2 separate regions of the Homo sapiens genome follow, and region 2 is linked to region 1. The links come from fine-mapping of genetic effects on gene expression. Tissue or cell type: skeletal muscle. Region 1 holds a variant in brackets; the other region holds the start of a gene. All regions are shown on one strand. Distances are between the middles of the regions.

What was found. PIP is the estimated chance that this variant, and not a neighbour inherited with it, causes the effect.
Region 2: it holds the start of AIFM1, and the variant in region 1 is fine-mapped to the expression of AIFM1 in skeletal muscle (GTEx, PIP 0.98).

What each region holds. Positions count from the first base shown.
Region 1 is chrX:130,297,326-130,303,294 of GRCh38, reverse strand. No RefSeq gene overlaps it. Among named protein-coding and RNA genes, the nearest start is that of ZNF280C, 31 kb to the right of the region's middle. The variant T/G (reference allele first, on the strand shown) is at 3,403.
Region 2 is chrX:130,163,417-130,169,385 of GRCh38, reverse strand. AIFM1 (apoptosis inducing factor mitochondria associated 1) reads left to right here and starts at 3,545. Exons shown (of 16, transcript NM_004208.4): 1 at 3,545-3,835. The coding sequence starts at 3,730. It also overlaps a transcript of RAB33A not described here. RefSeq lists an enhancer at 3,557-3,896.

The DNA.
Region 1 (5,969 bases):
TAATCGAAACACTGTGGTCATGCCATGGGATTAAAAAGAAAAACAAAGCAGTGACATATAGTGAGAGTCCAGGAAAAAGCCCATGCATTTATGGTACATTGATTTTAAATTTTGTTACCATGACAATTCAATAGAGAAAATATAATCTTTTCAAAAAATGATTCTGGGAAAACTGGATATCCATGTGCAAAAGAATGTATTTGGCCTCTACCTCATACTGTGTTCAAAAATTAACTCAAAATGGATCAAAGATCTCAAATGTAAGACCTAAACACTCTAAAATTCTTAGAAAGTAACACAGGTGTGAATCCCCATGAACTTGTATTAGGCAATGATTTCTTTAATATAACATTGAAATCACAAACAACAAAAGAAAAAATAGATAAATTGGATTTCATCAAATTGTAAAAGTTCTGTGCCTCTAGGAAACTATCAAGAAGGTAACAAGACAACTTAGTGGATGGAGAAAATATATGCAAGACACATATTTCATAAAGTTGTAGTATCCAGAATACATAAAAACACTTGTAACTTAATAAAAAAATGGGCAACTTCAGAAAAAAATGGGCAAAGGACTTGAATAGACATTTTTTCTTTTTTTCAAGTTCAGATTCCTTTATTTATTTATTTATTTATTTATTATTTATTTTTTATTTTACTTTAAGTTCTGGGATACATGTGCAGAACGTGCAGGTTTGTTACATAGGTGTATATGTGCCATGGTGGTTTGCTGCACCTATCAACCCGTTATCTAGGTTTTAAGCCCCACATGCGTTAGGTATCTGTCCTAATGCTCTCCCTCTCCTTGACCCCCACCCCCCAACAGGCCCCGGTGTGTGATGTTCCCCTCCCTGTGTCCATGTGTTCTCATTGTTCAAAAAAGATAAACCAATGGCCAATAAGCACATGAAGGGGTGCTCAACATCATTAGTCATTAGGGATATACACATCAAAACCATAATGAGATACCACTTCACATCCACTATGGTAGTTATTATTAAAATTTTTTAACAACACTAGTATTTGCAAGGATGTGGAGTATTGGAGCCCTAATACGAGGGTGGTGAGAACATTCTGTAGTACAGCTGATGTGGAAAACAATTTTTTACAGTTTTTTGCAAAGTTTAGCATAGAGTTACTATGTGACTCATCAGTTCACTTCCTAGGTATACACCCAAGAGAATTAAAAAAAATTTTCAAACAATAATGCATCCACAAATGTTCATAACAGCATTATTCTTTTTGTAGTTTTTATTTTAAGTTCATGGGTATATGTGCAGGATGTGCAGGTTTGTTGCATAGGTAAACATGTGTCATGCGAGTTTGCTGTACAGATTATTTCATCACCCAGATATTAAGCCTAATATCCATTAATTATTTTTAGTCATCCTCTCCCTCCTCCCACCTTCCATCCTCCAAAAGGCCCTGGTTTGTGTTGTTCCCCTCTATGTGTCCATGTGTTCTCATCATTTAGCTCCCACTTATCAGTGAGAACATGTGGTATTTGGTTTTCTGTTCCTGCATTAACTTGCTAAGGATAATAGCCTCCAGCTCTATTCATGTCCCTGCAAAGGACATGATCTCATTCTTTTTTATGGCTGCATAGTATTCCATGGTGAATATGTATCACATTTTTTTAATCCAGTTTATCATTGGCAGATATTTGAGTTGGTTCCATGTCTTTGCTAAGCAGTATTATTCTTAATAGACAAAAAGTAAAAACAACCTAAATGATCATCTGATAAATGGATGAACAAAATCAGATATAGCCATAAAATGGAATATTATACAGCCATAAAAAGTAGTGAAGTATAGCTACATGCTACCACATGAAAAAAAAAAAAACCTTGAAAACATTATGCTTAGTGAAAAAAGCCAGACACGAAACTTGCATATTCTTTAATTCCACTTATATGAAATGTACAGAATAAGCAAATCTAGGGAGACAGCAAGTTGATTAGTGGTAGATCACATTTTGGGATAATGGAGAGACACTGAATCACACATAAAGTGCACAGCTTCTATTTGAGGTGATGAAAATGTGCTATAATTGGCTGTGGTGATGTTTGCACGTATCTGTGACTATATAAAAAACATAGAATTATAGACTTTGTGTGGGTAAATTCTATGGTACATGAATTATATCTTAATAAAATGCATACATATCTAAAAATGGTTGCTCTTTTATATATTGTCATTGAATAACCCAAAACCAAAGTTAAGGAAACAATTGCACTGAAACTTGTCTCATAAAGGATAAGGTACTTAGGAATAAATATAACCAAGGAAGTACAAGATTAATACACTGAAAACTACAAAATATTACAGAGAAGAATTAAAGAAGATTTAAGTACAAAGATATCTGGTTCCATGAATTAGAAGATTTAATATTGTTAAGATGGCAATACTCACAAGATTTATCAAAATGCCAATGCCCCCCCCTTTTTTGCAGAAAACCTTGAAAATATGATGGTGTGTAAAATAAGCCAATGACAAGAAACTACATATTGTACCACTCCATTTATATAAAATGTACAGAATAGGCAAATCTATAGAAATATCAAGAATGGAGGTTGCTTATAGCTGGGGAAGAAAAGGAGGTTAGTAATCTACTACTTAATGGGTATAAGTTTCCTCTTCAGGGTGGTTAAAATGTTCCGGCATTAGATTGATGACAGTTGCACAATATTTTGAATATACTAAAAACGACTGAACTGTATACTTTAAAATGATTACTCTTATGGTGTGTGAATTTTATGTCTCAATTAAAAATGTTTTCCATAATGAGAAATATAGAAACCAATAAAAACTTATGTTTTACTTCTAATCCCACCAAACAGCCAGTAAGGACTTTTGGTATATTTTCTTTTCTTTCTAATGTGTGTGTGTGTGTGTGTGTGTGTGTACACATATAGCATATATTTCAAAACTGAAAATGAGATCTTATTTTAAGTACGAGTTTATAACCTAATTATATGAAAAAATTTATACCCTTATCATGTGGATACAGCAGTATAATTAACCTCTGTGTACCTACCATTTAGATCAACAAATATTCAACTCACAGCCAATTTTGCCTTCTCCTTACTTCTTGATTAATTTGAAGCAAATCCCAGATATCAATTCATATTGATGGTATCGGCTGCAGCAGGGAGGCGTGGCTGGGGCTGCCCACTCCATGGAGCAGGCAGGAGCCCCACCCTCCTGGGTAGGGCTGCAGCTGCCCAAACTGTAGCTGTATATCTGAACCTCCCTGTGCTCTTGGTGGGTGCCAGGAGCAGGCAGGATCTCTGCCCTCTCAAATACAGCTGCAGCTGCCTGACCTGTGGTTGTAAACGCGGGCGTCTCTCTCCACTCCACAGACAGTAGTTGGGGACAAGCGGAAGTCCCGCCCCTTCTGAA[T/G]TGGCTGGACTGGAGCTCCCTGGATGCAGCTGCAGCCATGCTCCTAGGTGCAGAACCCTGGCGGCTCTGCAACCTGCACCCTCGAGGGTCTGGAAGGCCCTAGCCCCCTGTGTCCCCGCAGGCTCGTGCGTGTTTTCTGCTGCTGCCTGGCTTCTCTCTGCTCCCAGTACTCCCTCTAATCTTGGAGCCGGGTTGGGGCTGAGCTCCTGCTCTGTCCCGCCCTGGACTGGTGTGCACAGGCTCGGTGCAGTGTTGACACGCAGGCCCCCTGCTGTCTGGGACCCTCCAAACTTTAGGCACCAATGAGCACAAGAGGGAGGCCAAGATGGGGCTGGGGGCAGCTCAGCACTGGCCTGCAGGTGCCCCTTGGCTCTAGCGGTCTGGGCGCCATAGGCAGCAGCAGGAAGCAGACAGGCTCCTGGGCAGGAAGGGATGGGTCCCGGGTAAGGCCCCAACTTCAGGCCAGGGAGAACCTGAAGGCTGGAGGCCAGCCTGCCAGACCTGCTGACCAGAGTGGGGTCTTGTGGTGCCTCTTCCAGGCTGCCCATGGCCGCCCATGGACCAATCGGTATGAACTTCCTCCCCTCTGAGTTCCATAAAAGCCCAGGCTCAGCCAGAGCAGGGCAGAGGACAGAGAGATGATGGAATGACCAGTGGCAGAGAGGAGCTACCCTCTCTGCTGAGAGCTTCAGAGACCCGCAGAGACCTCTGAATGACCTGCCAGCAGAGAGGAGCCAGCTTCTCCAGGGCCTCTTCTCTGTTGAGAGCTGAACACTCCACAGGATGACCTGCCTAGAGAGGATCTGCCCACTGCGGGTCTCCTCTGAGTTGTTCTAACACTAAATAAAGCTCCTCTTCATCTTATTCACCCTTCACTTGTCTGCATACCTCATTCTTCCTGGACACAGGTCAAGAATTCGGGCAAAGGTGCCACCAGTCACAGAGGTTTCTGGGAAGAAAATTAATACCCTAAAGATCTGGTAACAATTTTATCCATAAATATTTCACATACATATCTAAAAGATAAGGACACCTCTAAAAAATAACAATAATACCATTAATATACCTATAATTTTTATAATTTTTAATAACATCAACAGTCAGTGTTCAGATTTCCCCCAGCTGTATCATGAATAATTTTGTTACAGTTGATGTGTTCAAATTGAGATCCAAATAAGTACCACACACTATGTTTGTTTAATATGTGTTAAGCATCTTTGAATCTAGAATGCCTCCCTCCTTCTCTTTCAATTTATGTGTTGAGGCAATACTAGAATGTCTGTCCTATAGAATTTTCCATAGTCTAGGTTTAAAAAAATTATCATTTAATGTGTTATTTATCCTCTGTATTTTCTGTAAATTATTATGTACATTTAAAGGCTTGATCAGAGTTTAGTTTGAATTTTTGCAAGAATACTTCATATGTGGTGTTGTATATGTGCCATCAGGGCAATAATACCTGCTTGTCTGTTGTTGTGAAGTTAACCACCATTGCAGATTCTTTCCATCCACACTGTTTCATTGGGGATAATAATTTCTATCGTTTCTTCTTCACGTATTATTTGGAATACTTCTGTGAAGAGAAATGTCCTTTTAGTAACTATGATTAATCTGAGGTACATCATGCATATGAAAGGTGGAATAATTACTTGTTTCATTCTCTTTTATTTTGTAGTCTTCAAAATAATAAGCTGATTCCCTAGCATTGTTTTAGAATATCAATCTGAACAAATGCATTGAAATAGATTTGATATGTTCTAATTCATTATAGTTATTGTACTAATTAATATTCAAGTTGTCCTCTCTTTGAATCTTCAAGTTGGCCCTTGAGTCCTTTTTGACATGATTCAGTGGTCTTTGGTACTTAATTTCTGGTATGACAGGATGTTCCAGGAGTATCTTGTAATATCTTACCTCAATTCTATTTAATGTTTAACGAAAGCCTAGTCAATTGGCTCATTTATGGCCTGGCACATAAAATAAACTAGGGTATATCATTTGCCTATTAGAGACATCTGCCTCTAAAATGGGGCTTACAAACAATGAATTAAAAGATGGTAACAGACATGAAATAAAACCTCTTTGTGGTGAGGGAGGATATGTATATATTTAATCCCTGATACTCATTAGCCCCTAAGGATATTCTGCTTCTTGAAACTATAATCCCTCTGACAATTCCTGGACATTTCATCATCAGTCAAGAGGATAAGACTTTATGAGAATATGATTACTGAAAGATTTTTGTTGGTAGGCTTCATTGAAGGTGGCTTATTTCTTGTTCACCTGTGCAAGAAGTTGCTATCTAGAAAATTACTTCCTTACTCTTAAGAATTGTAAACAGAAAGTCATTCTCTCCCAACCACTCAAAACTACCTATTTGGTTGCTTTGGTTAGCAATATTTGTATTAGCTAAAATATTAGGGTGAATTGAGCCACCTTATGAATAAAGGCAATTGGCAGGTATTTTGGAGTACTGAAAGTTTTCTTTAATTTTTGCACGTGATACTTCTAATTCTAATTGATACATCATGCAATCTGCCTCTTTCCTAGCTAGAATATTTGAAAGC
Region 2 (5,969 bases), 130 kb after region 1:
TTGACAGTGTTTTCCAGTCTCTTTTGCCATCAGATATAATTAACTTTGTATTTAATCAATCCATGATTATTGGTTTTTACAAATATCAATAAAAATCAATGCAAGGCTGTTAAAATGTTAAGTAAATATAAATAATTTTTACCTTACTTTGGAATTGATACTTTTTTTTTTTTTTTTTGAGATGGAGTCTCGCTCTGTCACCCGGGCTGGAGTGCAGTGACACAATCTCGGCTCACTGCAAGCTCCGCCTCCCAGGTTCACGCCATTCTCCTGCCTCAGCCTCCCAAGTAGCTGGGACTACAGGCGCCCGCCACCACGCCTGGCTAATTTTTTTGTATTTTTAGTAGAGACGGGGTTTCACTGTGTTAGCCAGGCTGGTCTCGATCTCCGGACCTCGTGATCCGCCCGCCTTGGCCTCCCAAAGTGCTGAGATTACAGGCATGAGCCACCGTGCCCGGCCTGGAATTGATACTTTCAATATTTATCCCCTGGCCTAAAGTGATCCACCCTCCTCGGCCTCCCAAAGTGCTGGGATTACAGGCATGAGCCACAGAGCCTGACCATATTTTCAATATTTATCCAAAGGAGCTCTAGATAAAATGTCACCCATTGCCTGCACTTCTGAACACTGATCTACTCTGCTTAATGGGTAAGGGAGCCCTGGATCATCTTCACCACATAATGACTACTTCCTAGGCCTGGCACAGTGGCTCACACGTGTAATCCCAACACTTTGAGAGGCTGAGGCAGCAGGATTGCTTGAGCCCAGGAGTTCAAGACCAGCCTGGGCAACGTAATGAGACTGTCTCTTAAAGAAAACCAAAAAACAAAACTACTTCCTGGGTTAAACTTCACAGAAGGGTGTCTTTGTAGGCCGGGCGAGGTGGCTCATGCCTGTAATCCAAGCACTTTGGGAGGCCGAGGCGGGCGATCACCTGAGATCAGGAGTTCAAGACCAGCCTGGACAACATTGTGGAACCCCGTCTCTACTAAAAATAGAAAAATTAGCAGGGCGCGGTGGCATCTGCCTGTAATCCCAGCTACTCGGGAGGCTGAGGCAGGAGAATTGCTTGAACCTGGGAGGCAGAAGTTGCAGTGAGCCGAGATACTGCCACTGCACTCCAGCCTGGGTGACAAAGGGAGACTCCGTCTCAAGAAAAAAAAAAAAAAAAAAAGAGTATCTTTGTAATTTCTTTCTTTTTCTTTTTTGAAATAGGGTCTCGCTCTGTCATCCAGGCTGGAGTGCACGGGAGCAATCACTGCTCACTGCAGTCTCGATCTCCTAGGCTCAAGTGATCCTCCCATCTCAGCCTCCTGAGTAGCTGGAACCACAGGCACATACCACCACGCCTGGCTAATTTAAAAAAAAAATGGTAGAGATGATGTCTCATTATGTGCTCAGGCTGGTCTGGAACTCCTGGCCTCAAGCAATCTTCCCACTCGTCCTCCCAAAGTACTGGCATTACAGGCATGAGCCACTGCACCCGGCCCTGTAATTTCATTCTCTATCCCCATTCCACCAAAAAAAAAAAAAAAGTAACTTCATTACCTCCAAAGTTAGGGCCCAACTCTTGCCAGTTCAAATCTGGCCCCCCACCATACTTGCCTGTCTTTATCACTACTTCTTTATTTTTTTCTTTTTGGAGACAGAGTCTTGCTCCATCATCCAGGCTGGAGTGCAGTGGCACAATCTTGGCTCACTGCAGCCTCCACCTGGCAGGTTCAAGCGAGTCTCCTGCCTCAGTCTCCCTAGTAGCTGGGATTACAGGCGCATGCCATGGCGCCCGGCTAATTTTTGGATTTTTTGTAGAGACGGGGTTTCACCATGTTGGCCAGACTGGTCTTAAACTCCTGACCTAAAGTGATTCACCCGCCTAGGCCTCCCAAAGTGCTGGGATTACAGGCATGAGCCACGGAGCCTGACCACATCAATACTTCTTAGTATGTACTCTCTATCATTGTCCCCCGAAAATGTGCTGGGTTTTGGTTTTTTAAAACAGTTCCAAGCCTTTTCATTTAACAAACAGCATGGTGCTTCCTCTAAGACACTTTACAAATATTAGCTCATTTAGTCTTCCGAACACCCTCCTGAGATTTGTAGATGAGGAAAATGAGGCACAATTAAGTGACTTGCCCAGGTGGCAGAGCCAGGATTCAATGTGGGTTGGTCTGGATCCAAGGTCAACATGTTTAACAATGAAAAATGTTATCTTTGGTCCGAAAGTATTCACCATCTGAAATATCAATCCTTTTCCTCTACTGTTTGAATTTTACTACTCATCCTTCAAGACACAACTCAAATAACTTCTTACACGAAGTTCTACCATAGTGATTCCATCCCATAGTCTTCTCTCTTGCTCTGTCCGGCACTACACCAGATATTATTTCAATGACCGGTATATGTCATCTCCCCAACTAGACAGTGGCCACTTCCTATATAGATGCTATGTCCAAATAAACCCATTGTAAACTGAAAATATCGTTAAGTCGAAACTGCATTTAATACCCTGATAAACCCATCATAAAGTCAAAAAACCGTAAGTTGAACCATGCTTAAGTCCAGATGCTCCTCGACTGACATGGGGTTAGGTCTCATTAAACCCATCATAAAGTCGAAAAATTGTAAGTCGAACCATTGTGAGGGGTAAGTCGGGGACCATCCGTACTTTTCATACCCAACAGAGCCCCTTTTATAGTACAATCCAAGAGGTAAGTGCTCAATAAATACTTGTTAAATGAATATGTAAGCTGAATCTTTGAAACAGGCACATTGTATGTTCTGCATGCAGCCAAAACATTATTTCCAATTTAGCTTATATCTGGCAGAGTCAAAACACTTATTTACACTCAGCCCCTCACCCTACTCCCATAACTGAAAGTTCTGCTTAGCAGACTTCTCTTCCCAGAAAGTCCGAGAAGCACGAACGCTTTTTGCTAACATCCTGCTCCCAAGCACAGAAACCACAGCAGGAGACTGTGTGTATCTGTAGCACCTGGTATACAGCATCTAGGACACACAACTGAACTAATAAATAAAGGTGACAGGCGGGAAGAAGAGCGCAGAATTACTTGTCCAGGAAACGGGTTGGGTGGGAAAGAGCCGGCAACTGGTAAAAGATGGAAGTACACGCCGGATCTGGGAAGCCAGGTTCCGCGCCTCGGACTCATGGAAAAACTGGATCTGGATCACTGCAAAAGAATCAGGAAGGCTTCGGTATCAAGTAACTGGTGTCCTAAAACCAAAAAACAAAGTGCGATGCCGGGGCTACGCTGTTGTGAGATGCTGTTATCAGTTCTCGTCACCAACACAGCGGCAGCACCAGGCACAACCGCCAATCAAAGCGGCCCCACGAGTCCCTCCTTGAACAGGTTCCTTAACTCGTTCAGTCCAACACTGTGCCACAAACTCGCGAAAACCGGCTACCTAGAGCCAGCGTCTTTGCGAGCTTGCGGCCAGCTAGTGCATGCGCAAATCCTCTCGCCGTGCGGACCAATCGCAATGCGGCAGCGAGTGCTACGCCTGCGCAGTAGGCCTCCGGTCGCCGTTCCCCTTCCCCGGCTCTAGCAGGCCGGCTTCTCTGTCCAATGCCCACCCGGAGCTGGGAGGAGGAGTCTGCGTAATGTGCGTGTGAAGAGACTGGGGGAGCTGGCCGGGGCTCACGGTGTTTGACCCGTCGGTCGTGCGTGAGAGGAAAGGGAAGGAGGAGGTCCCGAATAGCGGTCGCCGAAATGTTCCGGTGTGGAGGCCTGGCGGCGGGTGCTTTGAAGCAGAAGCTGGTGCCCTTGGTGCGGACCGTGTGCGTCCGAAGCCCGAGGCAGAGGAACCGGCTCCCAGGTGACTGACCCATTCCAGGCAACCTCCAAGTCCGAGGGCCTGGCGCCTTAGGCTCCCTGTGCCTTGCAGCCCTCTACCCCCGCGTCCCCGCGAGAAACTTAACACATAGTCACGTGAATTCCAAATTGGCAGACTCCGAACCCTGAGTCTTGCAAGCGGAGGAATTGGCTCAGCCATGCCGACCTGACCTTCAAGAGATTTGAACCCAGTAGTCGGCTTGAGGCCTTTTCCCGGGAGCGTTTGCTGTTCAGGGATCCCAGAACAACTGGCTGTCGGCGCCTCCCCGGCATCCCCACCCCCCACCCCCCTTTTTAGAGCAATGAGGTCAAGTAGACTTTGTCATTTACCGATTGAGACTTTAAACAGGACGTTTAAGCCCTACGCCTAAGTTTCTTGTGTAAATGAGGGTGTTATCTGCTCAGCCTTCCAAACCACAGATGAGATCCATGGATTTGAATGCCCAGTGAAACAGAAACGGTGCAGGGCAAGTAAGGAGTCGGTTGGTTGTGTACCAGACACCCAGAGAATTGGCCCAGACTTAATTGGAGATGCCTGAGCCGTGTACTTCTTGGTGGTCTTTAAGGCTTCAAAGAAACAGTTTGCAGAACGCATTGTATTTTGTTCTCCATTAAGTTGTTTCATCAAATTTTAGAGCTGGAAGGGATTTTGTGGTAAAGGTCAACCCACTCATTTTATAGATAATAAACTGAGGCACAGAGAGGTGAAATTACTTGCCAAAGGTCACATAGTTAATTAATAGGTAGAGCTAAGGATAGTTTGCTAGCCTCCAGGTCCTTAATCCCTTCGCTGCAACTCCATACTGCTTCCTAAAGTTGACCTCAAAAAGTTAAGAATGAATTCGGGTCTCTTCCCAGTAATTAGCCCATTGTACATCAGATATCCGTGAATTTATCTGAGCATGGCTTGAGCCTGCTTCTTTTCGTACTGCGTTACTTCATGGGGGCAATGAATGATCCACCTGTAGGAGTTGCTTTGAAAAAAAAATCAGTAATCCTTCAATGTCCACCCCTAGGGCATTTGCAATGTCAGAAGTTATCCTTGAGGCTTTTACAATACAGAAACACCTGGGTGCTTTAAAAATAAAAAGTGGAAAATATTTTCCTTGGGTTGTTAGGGTCTTTGCAAATGTGCATTTGAACAGTTTTTCCAGTTGCTATGCACAATGAAAATGTTTCCTGATAGGTGTATTTGAGTTATGTCCTGGGACATACTGCTCTTGGAACTTAAAACCTCTGCTTAGCTTTTAAACTAATGCCTTATCAATGGATGTCATCTTTGAGGGTTTTGTGTATTGAAATGATGGTGCTCTGTGCTTGTTGCACAGAAATTGAGATAACCTGAATTTTTTTTTTTTTTTTTTTTGAGACGGAGTCTCGCTTTGTCGCCCAGGCTGGAGTGCAGTGGCGCGATCTCGGCTCACTGCAATCTCCGCCTCCCGGATTCACGCCATTCTTCTGCCTCAGCCTCCAGAGTAGCTGGGACTACAGGCACCCGCCACCACGCCCGGCTAATTTTTTTTTTTTTTTTTTTGTATTTTTAGTAGAGACAAGGTTTCACCATGTTAACCAGGATGGTCTCGATCTCCTGACCTCGTGATCCGCCCACCTCGGCCTCCCAAAGCGCTGGGATTACAGGCGTGAGCCACCGCGCCCGGCGATAACCTGAATTTTTTCATCCACACTGGCCTTTCAAACTTTGAGTAGTTGTTTTGCTTAAGTCTCACAACTTTTACCAGCATTCTAAAGTCTGACCAAAAGTTCTCATCAATTAAATATGCATTTGCAAAGTTAAGTTGATTTATTAGACATTGGAAAGTGGTTGGTGTTGTTAGAACTACTGAAAAATACAGACTCAAATGGTTTTTTCCACTGCATGTCTTTGTTTGAAGGCAGTCTACTGTAGAATATATTCGGACTTCCTGACATATCCATCCATCTCTTTGCATACACTTGTTCTTTGTCCTTTGGCCGTGCACCAAAGTATGACATCATCTGCCTTTAAAAATGGGTGAGGGTAGTGTTAAATTTTCAAAAAGAAGTTCTGATACTCTCATTTTAGGAATTAACTCTGTTTTGTGGCTTGATTCCTAACTGCTTTTAATCTGATTTCTTTT